Linked DNA regions of Homo sapiens. The protein of the gene in region 3 interacts with the protein of the main gene of each other region in a pairwise test. Each region holds a gene or a part of one and is shown on either strand. Other genes may lie near its edges. The genes, in order: BEGAIN, VWC2 and ZNF319.

What was found.
Region 1: the proteins of ZNF319 (region 3) and BEGAIN interact in binary tests that used the Homo sapiens proteins (3 or more experiments, as listed by UniProt).
Region 2: the proteins of ZNF319 (region 3) and VWC2 interact in binary tests that used the Homo sapiens proteins (3 or more experiments, as listed by UniProt).

What each region holds. Positions count from the first base shown.
Region 1 is NC_000014.9:100,584,327-100,591,825, forward strand, and holds the start of BEGAIN (brain-enriched guanylate kinase-associated protein), read right to left. Parts: upstream 3,092-7,499; 5' UTR 2,965-3,091; coding exon 2,923-2,964; intron 1-2,922. UniProt on the Homo sapiens protein: May sustain the structure of the postsynaptic density (PSD).
Region 2 is NC_000007.14:49,776,536-49,783,638, reverse strand, and holds part of VWC2 (brorin precursor), read right to left. Parts: intron 1-7,103. UniProt on the Homo sapiens protein: BMP antagonist which may play a role in neural development. Promotes cell adhesion.
Region 3 is NC_000016.10:57,997,570-58,005,213, forward strand, and holds the start of ZNF319 (zinc finger protein 319), read right to left. Parts: upstream 3,104-7,644; 5' UTR 1,924-3,103; intron 954-1,923; 5' UTR 697-953; coding exon 1-696. Other genes in the region: USB1 (U6 snRNA phosphodiesterase 1), read left to right, coding at 3,915-4,012, 4,910-5,076. UniProt on the Homo sapiens protein: May be involved in transcriptional regulation.

The DNA.
Region 1 (7,499 bases), on a different chromosome or scaffold from region 3:
GTCCTCCAGACTCAAGGCCTGCTGAGGCAAGGGCCACTTTTGAGTTCCCTTCCTGGCTAGAGGGGAGAGAAGAGCCCCAGCAGCTCCTGACTCCTGCCGTACTGGCCAAGGTCCATGTCTCCCAGCAAACTGTGGACTCGTGGAGGGCAAGGTCTGTGTCAGACTCACCTAAGTGACCCCAATGAGCAGTGCAGAGTGGGTGCTTAGGTACAGCATGTTAGGTGAGTGTAGAATTCACACACTTAGTCATTCATCATTCATTCATTCATTCATTCCTATAATGATTAAAGCAATAGAGACACCTCTGGCCAGCTTCTCCCACCACAGGCTACAATCTGATGCCTGCTCTCAGGCCACAGAAGTCACTCCCCTGACTGTAATGGGTGTTAAGCTTCTGATACGGAGCCCTAGAGAGGAGACAGTGAGTCAGCGGCAGAGGAGGAACCAGAACCCAGGGCTGCAGACCTCCGTCCAGGCCTCTCCACTAAGGCTAGCGACCAGCTCTGCGGCAGGAAGGGGAGTCAGAAGAGAACCATGCGGGGTGATTCTAGACCAACACGGCGAGTCCTAGGGTCACCCACCCATCTGTCCCAGGGATCCTTACCTCCCTTAGGGGGAGGAGCCACACCTCCCCACCGCCATGGCTTCCACACTCCAGCAGGACACAGCCTCTCTAAGTCTTGAGACTTGAACACTCTACACTCTCCCCATCACCTTCAGGCCTTGGGCCAGGCTCCTGTAACACACCTTGACCCCTTCATCTGTTCAGCAACTACTCAGCCCTTGGACCCCACCTCCTGGGACCCTGGGTAATGATTTGTGGACTGTGTCCAATAGCCATGGACTCATGGGCTTCAGTCAATCCCTCCCATCCATCCATCCATCCATCCATCCATCCATCCATCCCTCCCTCCCTCCCTCCCTCCCATCCATCCATCCATCCATCCCATCCATCCATCCCTCCCATCCCTCCCATCCATCCCTCCTTCCCTCCCTCCCATCCATCCCTCCCTCCCTCCCTCCCATCCATCCATCCCTCCCTCCCTCCCTCCCATCCATCCATCCCTCCCATCCATCCCTCCCTCCCTCCCATCCATCCATCCATCCATCCATCCATCCATCCATCCATCCATTCATCCATCCATCCACTCTTCAGCATCAGGAGTGCCTGCAGGAGTAGGGAAGCTCCTTCAAAGTGTTGCCGTGGAGATGATGCGTGGAAATGCTGATCCAGGGCCCAGTACATAGCAGGCGTTCCATAAATGGCAGCTATGTGGGCCAGACCCTGCGCCCAAGTCTTGGGAGAGTGGATGGAAGATCTTCCAGATTGCTTAGGGCTCATTTCCTCTCTCCAGGCCTGGGCTCTGACAGGTGTCCCCCTACTCCACCCCAGCGCATGGAAAACTCATCCTCCAGGCTGAGGTTCTAGGCAGCCCTCCCCTCCCCACTCAGCTCCCAGGTGCGAACAGCTCCAGGTTTTGACGACAAACGGAACGCGGAGCCTTGGAATCTATAAATATGAGACAAAAGCTGGGGAGGGCCCTTGGCGGCAGCGCAGCCGCCCATCGCCCAGAGCCCGTGTGCTGAGCCCGGGCAGAGCCGCATCTGCCACAGTGCTTGCTTTTCCAAGCTGCCCTGATTATAGTGAGAGTCGGGAAAATTAAGGGTTTGCAGGATGCTGCTGGGGCCCTCTCTGCCGTCTCCCCGCCCTGCGTGTCACAGATGCCAGGCAGAGCCACCCCCAACGGCCAGTTGCCCCTGCTGGCAAGACCAAGGCCAGCCTGGCAGGGCTGCACACCGCAGTTTGTTAGGGGCTTCTGCCCACAGTCCTCGTGGGAGCCTGGCCCTGGGAGTAGTGGGGGTCTCTGCTGCTCTTGGCAGGCAGAGGAACTAGGGTCCAGAGAAGGAAAAGAACCTGTCCATGGCCTCCAGAGAGCCAGAGCACTGGGGCCTCCGACGGAGCCTGGCTGTGGAGACCCCGCCCCACCCATACCCCCAGGGCCTGGACCCCCAGTCTGCACTGGCGGCCGACCTTGGCCATGCGGACTTTGCACGTGCAGTGCTCCCTATCCATCCGGCCCCGCTCCCGGGTGCCCACTCTGCTCCCATTCTGCCGGCTCAGGAGACTCCAGCGCGTCGCCCACGCTGTTCCTGCCCTGAGGAAACCACATTGGGGATGGGGTGGGGCACAGACGAGGAAGGAAACACCTCTAAACCAAGCAGGAAGCGGAAACGCTGGGGCAGAAATTCCCATCCAACGTGCTGGGGCTCAGGGAGGGTGAGCGCGCCGGCTGAGCCGCTCTGGGCGAGGCCCTGGCCTCCCTGAGCCTCAGTTTCCTCGCCTGTAAAGGGGCAGGAGGATAGTACCTGCCGCGAGGTACTGAATGGGATGGTGGTGTCCGAGGTTCGTGCGCGCCCACGCGCTGCAAACGCTCAATGAGGCGGCCCCGGGTCCAGCCTCCTTCCGGCTCCCGGGCCTTTCTCCGGCCTCCCAAGCAGGGGCTGGCCCTGCCCCCAGACGCAGGCGGGTCCAGGCCTGCCCGCACCCTCGCCACCCGCCCGGGACAGCGGCGGGTCCCCAGTCCTCCGGCCGCGCCCTTGGTCACCCGTCCCTCCTTTCCTTCCGCCGCAGGGGCGCGCGTGTCAGGGCGCAAGGACCCCGCGATAGGACCCGGGCGCTCCCGGCGGCGCGCGGAGGCTGGGCATCCCCGCCCCACCCGAGAGTGCCCAGTTCCCAGGAGACCCGGCCCGGCTCCTCCCGGGCCAGTGAAGCCTCCACGGCGGGGGCGCAGCGCGGAGGGGAGCGGGGCGGGGGGCCGGCCACCTCCCGCGCTGAGCAGGGACCGCCCCAGGCGTGGGTGGCGCCCGCCCCGCCTCCGCGCCCGCGCCCGCGCCCTGCCCTCCCGGCTCGCAGGTACTCACCGCCCGGCGCAGCCGGCCCGGCCGGCGACCGCCAGTCCACATGGCCCCAGGGCAGCCGCGCCGCTCACCGCCGCCGCCGCTACCGCCGCCCCCTCCCCTCCGAGGCCGAGCGCGCCGGGAGCCGGCGCGGCCGGGGCTCCCCCACCCCGCCCGGCTTCCCGCAGGGAGCGCCCGCCCCCCGCCCCCAGCCCGGCTCCCCGCCAGCCCCGGCCCCGCGCAGCCGCGGCTGAGCCCGCGCGTCCTCCCGGCAGCGCCCGGCCGGGGCGCAAGTGGTGGGCGCAGGGCCGGGCAGGGGCGCGGGGGTGCGGCGTGCGCGGGGGCCAGGCGAGGAATGGCAGAGGGGCAGGGAATGAATGAACCCGCGCCAGCTTGAATGGCTGAGCGCGTGAATGAATGAGTGCGGTAGAGCATGCGGGGCTGGGGGGGCGGGGGGAATGAATAAATGAGAGAACTAATGCACGGGCGCGAAGGTGAGTGACAGAGTGAATGGGCCCTTGAAACCCAGAGGCTGTCAGTAATGACCTGCCCAACCTTTTCATCGGTCCATCCATTCAATCCCTCAACATTTATTAGACACCTAGTGTGTACCAACCAGCCCTGCTGTAGGCCCCAGGGGGTACAGTAGCGAGTGAAACCAAGCTCCTGCCCTCGCAGAGTCACATTTTACAGATGAGGAAACCCTGGCTCCCAAGGGTGCCTCCTGGCCAAGCTGCCCCTTACCCTGCCCTTGCTCTGCCCGAGCCCCCAGTCGGTGGCTTCCAGGGCTTGCCTTCTCCCCAAGGAGCTCTCAGGAAGGGAAGGTGGCTTCAGGAGGACCAGTGTTGCCCCCTGCCTATCCCTCCAGTCTGAAGCATCCCACCGACCTGCCCGGTAGAGCCCAGGCTGGCCAGTCCTACCCTGGTAAAGGTGCAGCGTGAACCCTCCTCTCTCCTCCCAGAGCGGGCAAGGGGCAGCCCTGAGGGTGCCAGCTACATGAGGGTCTTCCATCCCAGCCAGCCCAGCAGCAGCCAGCGTGGGAACCCGGGGAGGAGCACTGGCAGCCAGGGAGGGTCCTGCGTGGTGGAAACAGAGCTGGCAAAGCCCGTGTGCTTCGCTCATATCCTCCCTCGGGACCTATGGGCTCATGGTTCACACATGCTTATATCATTTCCAAGTACATGGCAGATTAGAAGATGCTGCGAATGAGTACCTTGTATATTTTTGTTTTTTAATTGTGGAAAACATGGAAAACATAAAATTTACCATTTTAACCACTTTTAAAGTGTACAGTTTGGGGACACTGAGTTCCCACTGTTGAGCTGCCATCACCACCATCCTTATATGCTGTATGTTGTATGCTTTGCAGTTTCTACGCTCTCTCATTTAATCTGGGGAGTAGGTTGCTACATTCAGGCAGTGTCAGTGCTGAGAAAAGGCACTGATAGCAAGGCAAGAGGGGAAACCCAGAAAAAAAGGAGACAAGCAAAAGAACCAGCAGCTGACTGGAGCCACTTCGTGTCAAGCAAAGTCCTGTCTCTGCTCCCTCTCAGGTCCCAGGGACATGATTGGGTAACCAATGGACAGAGGGAGGCGCCTCCAAGTGCACCCCACCACAGTCAAGACAAAATGAGAGGCGGCAGCTCAGGGCGGGGCTCTCCCAGTTTGGGCGAAGCGTGGACAGACTTCGCCCAAACCGTCGCTGGTGTGCACCACGGGACCAGCCTCTTTGCTCAAGGGGGCCTTAGTCTCCCCAGCAGGAGTAGGGACAGGCTCCCTGACCTCCACTCTGGCCTCTCAGGTTCAGACACCATTCAGGCAGCACACAGCAGTGGAGGCATCCTGTGAGAGGTAGTGAGGCCCAGCCTGCCAGCTCCAGTGTCCCTTCCCTCCCCAGTCCCTAAGGGGACAAACACCAATGGGGGATGTGGAACCTGGGGTACAGGCAGGGCTCTGCCCACATTGCCTCCTCCTGGGCTGCGGCCCTTCCCCAGAGGCTGGTCCTGCTCAGATGGTGCCAGAATGTTCACCGCCCGCCCTGGCACTGCTGCTGCCAACGCCACAGATGGCTGGGGAGGCGGGGGAGGGGCGGGTGGGGTGGGGGCGGCTCCTGCTTCAGCTCCAGCAGCTTGCAGGCTTCAGCTCAGGCCTGCCTGGGAAGGCCCCAGGAGAGCCCCTCCCCCATGCTGCACGCACCTCCCGTCCCCACCCTCCCTGCCCTCTCTTCTATCCTTCCCACTCCAGCCCCCTTAAGCTAGGAAGGCGGAGAGAAAGCAGGCATTGGTTGTGGGTCTGGGAGCATCCCTGCAATGCCCCTGTAGGGGAAGTGGTACTAGCCCCTTTTTGCAGATGGGGAAACTACAGTCAGTGCAGCAGAGCCTGGGGCATCAGGCAGGCTTCCTGGAGGAGGCAAGGTTTCAGCCGGGTTGGGAAGAAGGGATGAAAGTGGCAGGACTTCGAGGTGATGCCCTGGGGCCATGGAGGACCCTCTCCTCAGGCCCCTGCCCTCATTCAGACCTCTACGGACCACTCTGTTTGACATCACCATCCCCATGGCTCAATCTCGTTGCCCTATTTTGTTTTTTGCGTGTCTCTTACTGCGTTCCAGAGCTATCTGATCTGTCTGTTGATGTGGACATCAATCTCCCCGCTGGGATGCGTGGTCCTCTACTGTGGTCAGGGAGCAGGGCAGGAAGTGGCACCACACTGGGGCTCATGGTTAAATGTGCCAAAGAATGCATGGATGGATGGAGGTGGGGGAGATAGGAATAGCCTGGTGTGATGCCAGGCTTCTGGCCCTGGTGGCTGAGTATAAAAGAAAGGACAGCACGTCAGGGAAGTCATTGACAGTGAGGCACCCGCAGACAGCCACATACAGGGGCTCCAGCATCAGCTAGCCATGCTGACCAGTTCCCTGCCTCATCTTCCAATCCCCACCCACAAGAACAGATTGAGCAAGGGTTCTGACTATGAGCCCTAGAGAATGGGAAGGTGAGAGGTATCTTCCCACTCTCCCACAAACAACAGGTGCTCCAACTGAAACTCTGGAGTCCCCTGCAGAATCGGGCTACAGCTGCCCTCCACAGGTGGTGAGAAGGCCCTGAATTGGCCCAAGTGTGTATCTAACAATGACCCCAACTGCAATATTAACCCAAATTCCAACCTATATCAAATGCTAAACCTAACTCTAATGGGACCCAAAACCAAAGCAAACTTTAACCCTACCCCAATGCTAGCCTGAACAGTAACATGAACCCTAAACCCGACTCTAACCCCAACACTGTCCTGCCAGAAAGCAATAACCTCAACCCACACCACACGCTAAAGTTAACCCAGACGCCAACCCAAAACCAAATCCCAAAAGGAACATTAAACCAAACCCCAACCCAGCCCTAACCCTAACACTAAACACTGCCAAAAACACCCCAAGCACTAGCCCAAATCCTAACCATAATCCCAACCCCAAACCTAAGCCTAATCCCAACCTGACCCTAACCCTAATCCCAAACCAAATCCTAACCCTAATCCTAACCCCAGCCCTAACCCTAACCGTACCCCGCTGCCCTGTTCCTTCACCTGCTTGTCCTGGGAGCAACGATGAGGGGGGCCTGGGACCGTAGGAAGCGGGCACAGGCAGCTGGGAGCCTCGTAGGTGCTCTGTCCGAGGCAGGTCCCAGGCCCAGGGGTCTGGCCCACTGCTCCTCCTGGGGTGGTGCTGTGAGCCCCTTGGCCTCCACCCCACTGCCTGCCCTGCTCTGTCTCCATGGGAAGCAGCAGTGGCCTCCTCCCTGGGCCTCTGCCCCTGTCAGGCCTTTCCAGCAGGTGGAGGTGGTTTGGATGCTGTGGCTTGGGCTTCAAAACTGTAAATAGGGGAAACCATTTTCAAACAAATATTTGTCAAGCAAAATCCCATCTCATCTCAGTGTGACTGGGCTTATCTCTTTATGCCCTGGGCCTGGGTACGGAGGGCACCATCCTGGGCCTCCCATGCTTGAGCCTGGGCAAGGGGAGCGGACACAGAGCAGGGGATGGCACCGAGGTGGCCTCACTAAGACAGAAACTGCCACTGGGTGTGCGTGCTGCTGCGAACAGTCAGCAGGGGTTCACCAAGGCCACCTGGGGGTCTGGGCTCCTTCAGGGGCCCACCTGCTAGGTCCTGGGCCAGGCTCGGCCCTGCTGCTGCTGTGGTGCCCTCCCCAGCCAGGCTGAGCTCCGGCTACATCATCCCTGTCCATACCTTCTGTTTCCGGGTCCTTGCACAGGGAGTTCCCTCATCCTGAGATGCCCTTCTGTGGAGTGTCCATGTGGAAACCTCCTCATCTCAGCTCCCAAAGTTGCTTCTTCTTGCAAGCTTTCCCAGATTGCTCCCAGCTAGGCCCCTCCCACCTATCCCACTGCTGATGCCCGGCAAGGCTCATAGTCAAAACCATACATCAGGCTAAAAGAGGCATCTAGCCCCTCCTTGCACACCTCAGGTGATGAGAAATTCCCCCCAAGAAGTCTCTACCGTTTAACAATGGCCCAGAAAGTTCTGAGCTACAACTGTGGCCCCACAGGGGCAGGGCTAACCCCCTCTGCCGAGGCAGGACAGTGTTTCAGGG
Region 2 (7,103 bases), on a different chromosome or scaffold from region 3:
CGCACCCCAGTGCCCGACAGAAATAGAATGAGAAGTATGATCCAGCTGGCAGGATCTCAGCCTTGGAACAGACAAGCAGTAAGAAGGATTTCCAGCTACGTGGTCAGAAAAGTACCATGAAGGATGGTCACAGGGTAGGTAGGCCTGGGTGGGAAGCCATATCCTTCATGCAAACTCACAGTTGTTACATTTGATACACTCTTTTCTTTTCCCTAGAACATCTGGCCCAGGATTCCTCTGTCATTTAAAAACAAGCCATCAACAACAGTGGAGTCTATTAATAATAATAGAGTGGCTTCTACTGTGTGCCCCCTTGACCCCCTGACCCAAGCTCTCACAGTGCCTCACACACCACACTACTGCTGCCTGTCTCCTGGAGGGGGCCATTTACTTCCCGTCACATCTCTAGGATGCAGCCCAGGGCCTCACACACATGGTGTCCTAAATATTTTCAAATAAATGTAAGAATAATGTTTCCGTTGGGACTTATCAGATTTAGAGATATCATCTGAGGAGGTAATGTTTTATGGAAAAGCAGCTCCATGGAGCCAGTCCCTAATGATTAGAGGTTCTACAAGAGTCCTTCTAGAGACCAAAATCTGGACCAGGGCGTGGCTACCTCCCCCTGAGCTGCACACTCTGCAGAACTTGTCTAAATATCCACATGAACTTTGTTCAGAGCTTTACAGGTTCAAATTGCTTTCACATACATCTTATTTACTTCTTATAATGGGAGAGGAATGCAGAATACTATCCACTTTTTTTTCTTTTCTTTTCTGTTTTTTAAGATGGGGTCTTATGCTGTTGTCCAGGCTGGAATGCAGTGGCCCAATCATGACTCACTGCAACCTCAAATTCTTGGGCTCAAGCCATTCTCCTGCCTCTGCCTCTCAAGTAGCTGGGTCTACAGGTGAGCACACCAACATGCCTGGCCTTTTTTTTTTTTTTCAATTTGTTGTAGAGATGTGGCCTCACTATGTTGTCTAGACTGGGCTTGAACTCCTGGACTCAAGTCATCTTCCCACCTCAGTCTCCCAAAGTGCTGGGATTACAGGGATGAGTCACCACACCAGGCCCCATTATCTTTTTTTTTTTTAACCACTAGAAAACAAGGCTCTGAAAGTTGTCCAGGGAAGCACTGGATAAAACAGAACCCCATTCACCCCACCGTTCAGATGATAAGTACCCTGTCCTCAAAGTCCCAGAAGCTGATTCTCCACCAAAACTGAAGAGGAAAGGACTGGAGAGCATGGGACCTGCTTTCCTAAACCTCCTCATGATATCAACTGCCTGTATGATTTTGGAGGGGGCACTAATTTTCTAAGGTGAATTTTCACTGCCTATGAACAAGAGGCTTTTCAAAGTCATGTATTTATTTACAGGAGCATGGGTGAATCACACATCTGCAAGGGGGGTGTGGTCAGCTGGAAAACAAATGCCCTCCCAAAGGGGCAGCCCTGCCCAGCTCTGACAGATGGCTGCCATCTGGGAATCATTTCATTTTTGTAAGAATTAGGCAATCTGGGAATTTATATGAACCTCCCGCTTGTCAAATACAGGCACTAGTAAACAAATGTTTTATATGCCATGAGCCAAATAGAATACCTCCTAGAACCAGATCTTCCTCTTGGGCCACCTGTTGCCCCACATGGGTCTGATAATCCCTGGAGTCCTACCTGCCTCTTGGGATCTAGTCTTCTTTTCACTGCCCCCTGGACTCATTCCCCCTTGCTCTCAGGGAAATCCTGGGACTAAGTGCTTTTAGTCCCATTACGACTCAAGACTTCATCCTTTGAAGGACACAGACATTATTTTGTTCATCAGATGGCCAAGTCAAATATGACAAATCCATGTAAATAAATGCTTAGCCAAGTGGATCAAGCATTTATTGGACATACATATAAGCAAGGCACTCTGGGCTTGTATAACTTTTCCTTTTTCCGGGTACCTGAAATGTTCTCCACCACACGCAAAATGCCACTTCATCACCATATGGTCACGAAGACACTATGCACGATCTTCAGAGTCCAACACGCTAGGATTCAAATCCTGTCTTCACCATTTACTAGCTCTATGACCTTGATCAAGCTATTTAACTTTTTCGGACCTTAGTTTTCTCTCCTTTAAAAATAAAGAAAATACCACCAACTCAGTCTGTTGTGTAAATTACTCCAGAAAAGCCAATATATAAAAAATATTGGCACTAGATAAATATTGATTCCCTTCTGCCCACTGTAAAAGATTATGGTGTTAATTCTATCATACTTCACATCAGATATTGTATGGAACATGCAAATAAGCAGTTTTTAAAGCTGTGTTTCCCCCACCTGAGTTAGGAACACATCTAAAGAGTCTAGATATGGCATATGACTCCCTCTTTAAAAAAAAAAGTCACTGTTTAAATGGCTTTAGACACAAGGGTAGAAAATGAGAAGTAGAGAATTTACAAAATCTTACTCAGAACCAAAACAAACTCAGAGACAGCAACAGTACATGCATTAGCCTGACTTGCAGAAAAGAACACAGATTGACTCATTTTACTTAGTGAAGGTGGATAATAATAGCATTGTTTTCAGTTAAGTAACATCAGCCAAAAGAATATAAATACCATTAGACTGAAAAGTGTGAATAACCGTAGCTTTCTCTTTGCTGGCACTTTCTCATAATTGATATAGAGATCTATTTAGATGAAGGTTTTGATTCCAAATTTCATGTTCAAATTTTTTTAATTGATAAAAACCTAGAAATAAGATTTTGCAGTGGGGTTAATGGCAAGTCAGATACGGAGGCAGTCAGAGAGAATTTGGTTTAACTCAGTGGTCCCAAATCATTTCACCTCCAAGTACCCCTTCCTGTTATCTCTCTCTCAACAGTTCTTATGCTTTGAAAGACAGTCTAGTAAGCTTCACTTATTAATAATTCATCTTCCCTTTTTCTTCAAAGACTTATACAATTGCCAATCAGAGCTCCTGATCGGCTACGATAACCAGTGTTGACACACTTTGCTGATATCAATCCTACCAAAAGCAAAGAAATGTGAAGATTTAGTTATCCTGTATGGCCCTATTTCAGAGTCACAAAAATTCCATTAGGTTTTATAAAACATGAAATAAGCTTGCAAACTCCCCTTTCCACCATCACAGTCCTCCAGGAGACCAAGATTCCCATGATGAAAACAACTTGTTTTGTTGAGCAAAATAGAATGATTTTTTTTCAATTAACACATTTCAAATGTGATTTGCTTCTGAACAAATCATGTGGCCACTGAGGCAAAATTTACAACTGCTCAATACAGCCCCTCTCCCTACCCTTAGTCACCTTTTAGTTTTCTGTGACACAAGGATCCATTCACATAAGTAATACAGGAACTCCTAAAGTAGCTCTCAGAATGCAATAGACACAGAATCAGAATGGTCAAGTTGAGCCCCTCAGTTAATGTTCATTGGCATACACTTCATCACCACTCACTCCGTGCCTTCGTCATAAGCACTGTTTTCCCATCATGTGTGCTGATGCATCCTCACACACCCCACTGTTACTACCTCGTTAGGTCTGTTTTAGGAAGTCAATTTTGGTCATTGACACTATGTTTTGGGCTAACCTGTGTGCTTCTACAATTCAAATTTTGAAGTCCTCACGCCAGTAGCTAAGAATATGACTGTCTGGAGACAGGTCTTTAACGAGGTAATTAAGTTAAAATGAAGTCAGGCCCCAATCCAATATGAGTGTGTCCTTATAAGAAGAGGAGATGTGGACACAGACAGATGCAGAGGGAACACCATGAGAAAACACAGGAAGAAGATGGACATCTGCAAGCCAAGGAGAGAGGCCTCGGAAGAAACCAGCCCTGCTGACACCTTGATCTTGGACTTCCAGATTACTTGGAAATGTGGAAGTCTGAAAATCTTGGATTTCCAGATTTATTCCAAGACAACAAATTTCTGTTTAAATTACCCAGTCTGTGTTACTTTGCTCTGGCAGCCCTAGCAGACTAATGTACTGTAGGAAGCAGAAAACAGTTAAAAATATCATTCCTTTACTGAAAAAAAAAAATAAGCCAATAGACAAGTTTCCTTATTCAAAGTTGGATGCCTGCTGGTATAAGTTAAAGAAAAAAAGACACTTGGTATCATTTGAGAGGCAGTGGAGAAAATTCTACTATTAACTATGTTTTTATTTGGATGTACAAATTAAATTACAACCATCCCTGGAGGAATGAACACATTACTCTCATTATTATTAGCAGCTTAATGGTATTTTGTGGAGTCAGTGAGATCTTTCACAAGTATCTAACTGAGATCAAACAGGCTGTAAAGAGAGGAAGTTTTAATGGGGTAAAAGAGTACAGAAAGAAGGGAAAAAACAAGTTTAGAATATGCAGAAAACTGAGTAGAGAAAGCAGCAACAAAACATGCCCAAAGAAAGAGAAGCCTATGAAGACAGGGAGAAACCGCACTCCTGCCGGAGCCAAATACCCTGCACATCACAAGCACAGCCAGGCTCTGGAGTTAATCTACTGCTCAAAGAGGGTCAAGCCTCCATCAATAACTAGTAATTTCCCCTCTCTCTCTGTCTCTGTCTCTCTCTCTCTCTCTCTCTCCCTCTCTGGAAGCAGAGAACAGACTGTTAAAGGATCTATGCATCTTGCAGGGACTGAGGCCCAAATAATCTCACTTTCACTTCCTTCCTTGCTAAAGTAAACAGTGTTCCAGGCATGACCCGACTGTACCACAATCTCCATTTGAATCACATTTTCTTCAGAGAAGTGCAAAGCACTTCAGACAGAATGCTTTCCTTTTTCATTTTCCATGTACTTTGTGCTATGCACATTACAGACTACAATCTCTCTCTGAAACCCAGAATACCCAGAGCAGGCATGTTAACAATTTCTGTGCCCTGGTACTCAGCATCATGACAAATCTCCATTACTGCAACCCACAAAGCCCGTGGACTCACAACTAACCCTATACCATTCTACATTCATATTTTCAACATTCTTCAAAAAAAGCATTGCTTTCTCTTTTGTACATTGAAGGAAACAAAAATGGAGACAATAAATGGCTTGCACAAGGCCACGATAAATTAGCAGAATGCCTAGAAATGTTCCCGATACTAACAAAAATGAGCAAACATGCTCTAACACTATAAAATCTTTATGTAGTTGACATATTGTAAGAACAAGCATATAATTAAAAATATGTAACAACTTTGCAACGTTCAAGCATGTGTGCATCCCAGCATCTGGTAATAAATGATGAAAGTTTAGAATGAAACGTCATTTGAAGATGGAAGATGCACTTAATATTCCAAAAATAGCTTTACTGGTATTTTAATTCTTCCTAAGATTGTAATCTTTCCAATTTCCCTTTTGTCAATATCATCTCCCATCCTCAGAGTTTGAAAACACATTCTACCTATGGACTACCAAACAGGTAGCAAAGAGGAAATTAAATGAGAGATCCCTCTCCTCCATAGACAAAAGCAGCTTCATGGCTGCTAGCATTTAGCATGAATTGTTAAGACAGAAGTTTGAATTATTTCCTTTACCTGTGATCTCAGGTAGGTAAGTGGACACTGAAGTATTTGGGCTTACTAGATCAAAGTGCTACTAATTCCTCAGTTTACTTCTAAGGACAATTCCAGAAAATTACTATGAAACTATAAATAGTGCAAACAACAAAAGGAATTAATTAAAAACCAACTGCTTATCTTTGACTTTAGAAGAGCCGATGATGTTACCAATTCAAAACTTAAGAGAATTGTTCTAGTGTTCTATGACCCTGCTCCAGGCCAAAATGGAAGGCCCCTCCTCTGAGCTCTTCTAGCACCCACAGGTTCCTTTACCTGGACACATTTGCCTGTGAACTTTTGTTCTGCACCCAAAACACCTGGAGAGATATCTACCAGACCCTCCCGTAGGCAGGAAGCATTTTGAGGGCAGGGTTTCTGATTTAGTTAATTTTGCATGGCCTGGGCGTGGTTCATATGAGTTGCTCATCCCAGTTGTCTTTCTCCAAAGGGCTGCAGTCAAATGTGAGTACTTAAGCAATGTATGCCTGGAGTTATATTTTGCTACATGAGCCTAGGGAAAGCTGGCCCCTTATCTTACAGATAAGAGAAAAGAAACCCAGAGGGCATATGTCTTTTGTTCCAGTCCTGCAGCTGGTTAGTGGTAAAGCCAGAATGAATAACCATGTTTCCTGACTCTAAATTCCAGCACTCTTTCCATACTTTGTACACTATATATAGATCTGTCCTTCCTGGCTTTGTACTTATATAACACTTGATAATTCATTGCCACAAGTCAGTAATTACATGGGCTTCACATCCTGGGAATTAGCAGATCTCACAGGCTAATTCCAGGAGGGGTATTCCAGCAGAATTCCTCCCTAAACCTTTGCTTTAGTAGCTGCACGTTCCATAACGCCCTCTGCAGGTGGGAAAAGGACAGCTATGGCCTGGTAAGTCAATGGGCTAAGTCCAGGCAGGCCATAGGTTGAACCTACCTTGAGGTGTTTGGAATAACTGAACACCTGTGCAGGTCTCTCTCAGGCCCCTAGCCCACTGGCAGAGATTTTACCTAGAGCCTGTGCATGCATGCTGTGCAGCACCTTCACCCAAACTAAAGCCCCAGTGGAGCTGGGCTTTTGGTTCAAGTAGAGTATAAGGGTTAAAAACCTAAGCTATGGAGTAGAACTGCTTAGTTTGACATATGAATCTGTTTCTTAATAGCTGTTCTGCCTTCAACACATTATTTAAATATTCTGTGTCTGTTTCCTCTTCTCCATAACATGGAGACAATGGATAATAATCCACCTCCTAGCATGGGATGAGATTTAACTAACGTACATGAAAACCAGCGGGATCCTGACGCACAGTAGGCATTAGAGAGATGGCCGGTATTATTAACATTACTACTACTCATCTGAAACAAAACAATTTTTAACCATTAACTGCACTTGTTGGTTTCACCATCCACTATGATTTGGCACCCAGTGAGCAAATATTTTCTTTTTCTTTTAATTTTTAGAACATTTGCATGATACCCTAAACACATAATCTAGGGAAATGGCTTTTTATATGAATAGTCTCCCTTAATTAGC
Region 3 (7,644 bases):
GCACTTGTAGGGCTTCTCACCGGTGTGGATCCGCTCATGCCGAGAGAGCTCCGACAGGTGCTTGAAGGGCTTTTGGCAGATGGGGCAGCTGTAGGGCTTGTCGGCCTGTTCAGCAGGGGTGACAGTGGAAGGCGCGGGTGCTGCGGGAAGCGACGGGGCGGCTGTGGTGGCTGGCTCCGCTGCCTCAGCTGGCTTGTAGGTCTTTTCACAGATGGAACACTTCACCAGGCCACTGTGGGAGCTGTGGTGCTGTGCCAGTGAGGTGAGTAGTGAGAAGCCCATCTTGCAGACCCCACAGACGAAGGGCTTCTGCTCAGCCTGCACGCACTGGTGCTCCAGCAGGTCAGTGGCCTGGTGGAAGATCTTGAGACACTGTGTGCACTGGAATGAGCGGTCATGGCCCGCCAGACACTGGTGCTCATGCGGACTGGACAGGTGCGCCAGGTCGTGACCACACACGCCACATTTGGGGCCTGGCTCTCCTGCTGCCTGCAGGGGTGCGTGTTGTGGGGGCTGCAGGCCGGGGTCTGGCTGCAGGAGGATGCCATAGACGGCACAGCCCAGGGGGTTCTCCGCCGTGCCCGGAGGCAGCGTGTGCTCTGCCAGGGCTGGCGGTGGCTCTGCATGGTGCTGAGGCTGCGGTGGCTGTGGCTGCTGCGGCTGCGTCTGTGGCGGCTGTTGCCAGCTTTCCGACATGCTTGGGAAGATGAAACAGGGTTTGGAGAGTAATGGCTTCAGTTTCCCGCTTCACGTGACCCAATCCAGAGAGAGAAGCTGCCCAATCACAGAGATGGACAAGGACCTCAGACAAGGCACAGAAGAGGGGCTGGTCAGACAGCCCGAGTCAGTAACCAAGCGGACAGACTACAAGGCTCTGCCTACAGGACATGGGGGCTCTTCAAGGGAGGGTCCCAGCAGTGCCGGGGAGACTCTGCCTTCCCCAGTGATCCGTTCTGTAGAGAAGAGAGAAAGTATGAGCTCGAGGAAGGAACAAGCAGCAGTTTCCTGGGCCTTCTCCCTGTCCTGCCCGCACTCACCACACCATCACAAACCACACATCGGGGAAGGCAGAGGTGCTCAGGGCTGCAGGACTCCTCCCTTCTTAGGCAATCAGAGAGGTCTGCAGCCAGCTCAGCTCCTCCAGGCAGAGGAAATGGCAGCGGCCTCCACCCCCACCCACCTCAGTGCCCCGCCCCTGGGCCAGGACATCCCAGCCTCCACAAGTCCCCTCCAGCTTCCTGCCAACCCTTTAGCTGAGACTCACAGGTGAGAGTCCGGGGTTATCTGCCTACAATACAGAATCCTCCTTAAGGCCCGCAGCTCCTCTCCTGTTGCTACCCTGAGTCTTAATACGGGCCACACCACTTAGAGCTAAGGAGGCCAGACCTCCCAGGTCTGAGAGCCCAGTGGCAAATGGCCTCTGACAGTCAATATTTAGGACAACTACGTGGAACCAAGGACCATTTCAAAAACTCTCACCTATGAGGGACTGACCACACCCCTTCAACTATCCCTGACCACAGGCCCATTCTCTCTCCGCGTGACAGGATGGGTGGCCCTACAGGAACCAGAGCCCATAGGTGATGGGGGCTAGATGAGAGGGCCACAGAACCACCCAGGCTTGATGTCCACACAGCAGAACTTCCTCACTCTGGTTCTCTCCCAGAACTCACACACACACACACACACACACACACACACACAAAGTCCTAAATCCTCTGAATCTCATAGTGTCAAGGCCTGCAGGAAAATGTAAGAAACTGCCCTGGTCTGCCTTGGCAATGCAGGATGCAGCATGCTAACCACAGAGCATTTCTCATCACCTCTCTAGAGACAACTCCATTCCCTTACTCCAAGCCTATAAAGTTCTGGGTAATTGTTGGAAGGTAAAGCCCACCCAGCCCAGGCAAATCTCTAACTCACCACTTTGTGGCAGCATGAGGTAATGCCAGCGAGAGGGAGGAACTTTCAGAGTCAGATGCAACCCACTTCCAGGTTCCCAGCTCATCTGCCTCTTACATTTAAAAGTTTGTAAGTTTTCTCCTGAGCAGAGGAAGAAGGAAGGAGAAGCCTTCACAGGACAGTCTGGCCTCTAACTGCTCTGCCAAAGAAATGTAAGAGTCAGGCTAAAAGCTGTCATCCTCAGCATCTTCCGGAAGGGAGGGAGGAGAGGAGCGGCTGCTCTGGGTGGAGGCAGCAGGTTGCTTGAGCAAGCAGGTACCACTCTAAGCCTTCTCGGGACAGAGAGGGGGAAGGTGGGCTTCTCTGAGCGCCTGTAGGTCCGCTGTGCCAACCCACTGTTTTGTTTGCTTTTTCTGGCATGAATGGCTGTCAGACAGTGTCCCCTGGCTTGGTCTGCAGCACCCCCTGCCCACCCTGGCCCTCCTGCAGCAAGGTGCAGCCAGGAAGCCTCTGTGATCACTCCGCAAAGGGGAGAGAGGAGGCAAGGAGAGGCAGGGGAGGCCCCCCACCTGCGCCCCACCCCGTCTCTTCTTCCTCCCTGAGAAACCGAATGAAAGCCGATCACCTCCCGCCGGCCCTGCCTGCAGGCCCAGCTGGGCTGCGTCCTGTCAGCCCTCGTCCGGGATGGCCCGGCCGCTGCGACCCGAGGGCGAGCCCCGAGGGCGGCCGGGCTGGAGAAAGGCCCCAGGGCTACAGGCCGGGCCCAGGAAGCGGCTGCGCCTCGAGGCCCGGCCTGGGCCGCCCAGAAGCTCAAGAGGCCGCTAGGTCGCGGCGGAGGGGCGCGGGGGGGCGGCCGGGCCGGCAGAGGAAGGGGTGCGGCGGGCGCGGGGGTGGCCCCCAGATGCGGCCCCGGGCGCCCCGCCGCTCACCTGCTCCAGGCCGCCTGCAGGGCAGGCGCGGGGCGAGCGGCGACCAGCTGCTCTCTCGGCCGCCCCTTTATTCCGGCTCCATCCGCGGCGGCGCGGCCTACGCGCGCTGCCAATCCCCGGCCTCGCGTAGCGGCTGCGGCCGGACCGGGGGCGGGGGACGGGCTAGCGGCGGCCGGAACGGAGGAAGCGACGCGCGCTGCCGGAGTAGCGGGGCCGGGGCGAGGAGCGCCGGGAGGGCGGGCGGACGGACCGATGGCCTTGCGGAGACGGGCGGACGGGCGGGCGGCGCGGGGGCCAGGGAGGCGGGGCCGGGGGAGGAGCGGCATCCCGGGCGGCGGCGGCCAATGCGGGAGGAGCGGGCGGCGCGGAGCGAGGCCGCCCCCTGCCGGGGACCCCGTGGCCGGGCCAGGTCGGACAAGCCGGGTGCTCCGGGCGGTTTTCGAGTCGCCAGGCCTGGGCGCCTCGACTAACCGAGGAAGGGCGCTCTGCTTCCGGCCACCCCGCTCGGGCTTAGGGGAGGGGGCTCCGGGTGACCGCCCTCGGCCCGGCTCTGCGCAGGAGAGGAGGGGCCTCCTAGAGGCTCTGGTCTGCCACAATTGATCCGCCCCTAACTGCTCAGCTTGGCTTTTAGGGGCTTGGACTTTGGGCTGGTTTGAGGAGGGGGCTCCAGGACCTCTGATCCTGGCCGGGCTCGGGGCAGGCAGGGGTCTCCGCTGGGTCTAGTGCGCTGACCCGGGACTGTCGTGTCTGGTATGTCTGGTCCCGGGTGGCTGCAGACAGCAGCGGGCAGAAAGGTGAGGGCCCTGAGCGATATATGAAATGGGTACACGAAGGCTGGGGAGGTCCCAGCGGGGTGCCGGGAGGCTGCAGGTGACCAGATCCGCGTGCGCAGCCGGCAGACAGCTTGGAGTCGGTGGGCTGAATCTTCACCACTGTCCTGCCGGGTTCCGCCCCTCCCGGCTCCGCCCCGAGGCGGTGCCAGCCCAGGCCCCGCCCCTGGGAGGGCGCTTCCGGCACAGCGGAACTCCGGGTGCCGGTTGAGGTTGCTGGTGGACCTGCTCTGGTGGTCTTGGATGAGGCCCCATGAGCGCGGCGCCCCTGGTGGGCTACAGCAGCAGCGGCTCCGAGGATGAGTCCGAGGACGGGATGCGGACCAGGCCGGGGGATGGGAGCCACCGTCGGTGAGGAGTGAGGAAGTCTCTCCGGAGGGCGCGCGCATTCACCCTAGAGCCAGACGGGACCCGAATGTCTGGGGGTGGAGTGGGGAGGGAGGATGCGGGGCGGCTCTGGGAAGGAAAAGGGGACGCAGGAAGAAAGGAGGATCCAGAAGATATACCCCTCCCCCCCACCCCAGACAAAGCTCCAGAGTGGCCCCACCTGGCTAGGGCCAAGTTGGGAGGCCAGACCTGGGTTCGGGTCCAGCCTCGCGCTGGCCCACTCTATCGCCTGGCACACATCCCTGTACCATCCTAGGTCCGTTTCCTGATTTGAATACAATTGCGATAGTAATACTTGCTAAAGCGTAGGGAGAGCCTTTTCATTCATCCAGTAAATATTCACTGAGCACCCACTCCCTGCCAGGCTGGGGTCTGGTAATTCAGTGGTGAACAAAACCGTCGGCCTTACTTCCTGGGGCTTAGATTCTTAAATGCTAGGCCTTATCTTTGCTGAGTGCTTTACAAGCAGTAGCTCAGTTGATCCCACAATTGCTCTATCAGGTAGACATATACTTTCAGATGAGGCATTTGAGGCCCAGAAAGGGGACATGACTTGCCCAAGGTCATAGAGCTAGAAAGTGCTACTCCAGCTGCAGCCTGTCCAGCTTGGAAATGTGACCCCTGAACCACATTGTTGCATGCCCTGTTGTTTCCCATGGGGACCTTGTGCCCCAGAGTTGGAGACCCCAATGAGACAATACTGGAGAAACAATTTCGCTATCTAGAAGCTGCTTCCAGCACCAGGCTGGAAACACACACTCAGAGCCACCATATATAAGGGGTTACAACTTTTGTGGTATATACAAAGGTAGAGAATGCTAACAGGATAAATGTACTCATTTTTCTTTTTTTCTTTTGCAGTGGCCAGAGCCCCCTTCCCAGGCAGAGATTTCCAGTACCTGACAGTGTGCTGAACATGTTCCCGGGCACCGAGGAGGGGCCTGAAGATGACAGCACAAAACACGGGGGACGGGTGCGCACCTTCCCCCACGAGCGAGGCAACTGGGCCACCCACGTCTATGTACCATGTGAGTGATGTGTGAAAGGCAAGTTGCCAAGACCCATAGACCCGTAGGTGCCTCATGAAGGGCAGAATCTGGCCCCAACTAGAAGGAAGAAACCAGAAACCTCTAACACTGGTGGTGGGAAAGTCATTGACTTAGCAGAGAAAGAGCAGGTTTCAAGAACTGGGGATTTTTCTGTCATCTTGGTTTTGAATTCGTAGCCTAAAATGTGTATTACCTCTGGGTATAATATTCTCCCTGTTCACGAGGAGGTGACCAAAGGAGAATCTGGAGCAGGGTGTCAAGGTCATGCCAGGCACTTTATTTCTGAGAGGGCCCTGGGTACGCTGGGTGTGCAAGGTTCAAATCCCACCCTAGCTCTGATCAGCAGGTGGAAGACAAAAAATGCCCAGGCTTCAGAGTCAGACCTCACTCCGCTGCCCACTACTCTGGGTGCCCTTTATAAGATACTAGACTTCTCAGAGCTTCAGTTTCTTCAAATCTAAAATGGGGGTAGCACTGGCTAGGCCAGGTGGCTCACACCTATAGTCCCAGCACTTTGGGAAGCGGAGGCAGGCAGATCACTTGAGCCCAGGTGTTTGAGACCAGCCTCGGCAACAGGTAGAAACCCTGTTTCTACCAAAAATACAAAAAAATTAGCCAGGTGTGGTGGCACACGCCTATGGTTCCCACTACTTGAGAGGCTGAGGTAGGCGGATTGACTGACCCTGGGAGGTAGAGACTGTGGTGTGCCAAGATCGCTCCACTGCACTCCAGCCTGGGTGACAGAGTGAGACTCCATCTCAAATAAGACAGTTTGGTGGCTTCTTACAAAACTAAACATACTCTTATCATAAAATCCAGCAATTACATTCCTTGGTTTTTGCCCAAAGGAGTTGCATTTGGTATTGACAGTGTTCTGGAGTTTAGCCATTCTAATAGGTGTGTAGCAATATGTCACTGTTGTCTGTTAATTTGCATTTCCCTGATGACATATGATCCAGATCATCTTTTCAATGCTTTTTGCCATCTGTGTATCTTCCTCAGTGAGGTGTCTGTTAAGGTCTTTTGCCCACTTTTTAATCATTTTTGTTTATTAATATTAATCATTTTTGTTTATTAATAAATTTTAATCATTTTTGTTTATTTAATATTATGATGTGGGTCTAATATTGGATCTTAAAATATTGAGTTTTAAGAGTTCTTTATATTTGAAATAATAGTCCTTTATCAGATACGTCTTTTGCAAATACATTTTTTTCCCAGCCAGTCGCTTGTCTTTTCATTCTCTTGACGTTGTCCTTCACAGAGCAGAAGTTTTTAAGTTTAATGAAGTCCAGCTTATCAATTATTTCTTTCATGGATCTTGCCTTTGGTGTCATATCTAAAAAGTTGTCACCAAACCCAAGATCATCTACATTTTTCTCCTATGTTATCTTTCAGGAATCTTACAGTTTTGCATTTTACATTTAGTTCTGTGTCCATTTTGAGTTAATTTTTGTGAAAGGTGGAAGGTCTGTGTCTAGATTCCTTTTCTTATATATGGATATCCAGTTATTCCAGCACCATTGGTTGAAAAGACTCTCTTTTTCACATTGTATTGCTTTTGCTCCTTTGCCAAAGATCGGTTGACTGTATTGATGTGGGTCTATTTCTGGGTTCTCAATTCTGTTCCATTCATCTATTTGTTCACCAATACCATTGGTGAACTGTTTTGATTGCTGTAACTTTACATAGTTAAGTCTCGAAGTTGGGTAGTTTCAGTCCTCCAACTTTGTTCTTCTCCTTCAGTAGTGTGTTGACTATTCTGGGTTTTTTGGGGGCTTTTTTTGGTTTTTTTTAGAGATAGGGTCTCACTATATTGCCCAAGCTGGTCTTGAATTCCTGGGCTCAAGCAATCCTCTGGCCTCAGCCTCCCAAAGTGCTTGGATTACAGGGATGAGCCACAGCACTTGGCCTGTTTTGGTTTTTTACCTCTCCATGTACACCTTAGAATCCGTTTGTCAGTATCACAAAATAACTTGCTGAGATTTTGACTGGGATTGTATTGAATCTGTAGATCAAATTGGGAAGAACTGACATCTTTACAATATTGAATCTTTCTGTCTATAAACATAGAATATCTTGTAGGGTCCAGCCCCACTGGGTCGGTGGGTTTTCTCCCTGTGTGCGGAGACGAGAGATTGTAGAAATAAAGACACAAGACAAAGAGATAAGAGAAAAGACAGCTGGGCCCGGGGGACCACTACTACCAAGACGCGGAGACCGGTAGTGGCCTCGAATGCCAGGCTGCGCTGATATTTATTGGATACAAGACAAAGGGTCAGGGTAAGGAGTGTGAGCCATCTCCAATGATTGACAAGGTTACGTGAGTCACGCCACTTGGACGGGGGCCCTTGCCTGCCTGGCAGCTGAGGCAGAGAGAGAGAGGGAGAGAGAGAGGACAGCTTACACCATTATTTCTGCATATCAGAGACTTTTAGTACTTTCACTAATTTTGCTACTGCTAGCTAAAAGGCAGAGCCAGGTGTACAGGTGTGAAGGCAGACTAGGAGCATGACCACTGAAGCACAGCATCACAGGGAGATGGTT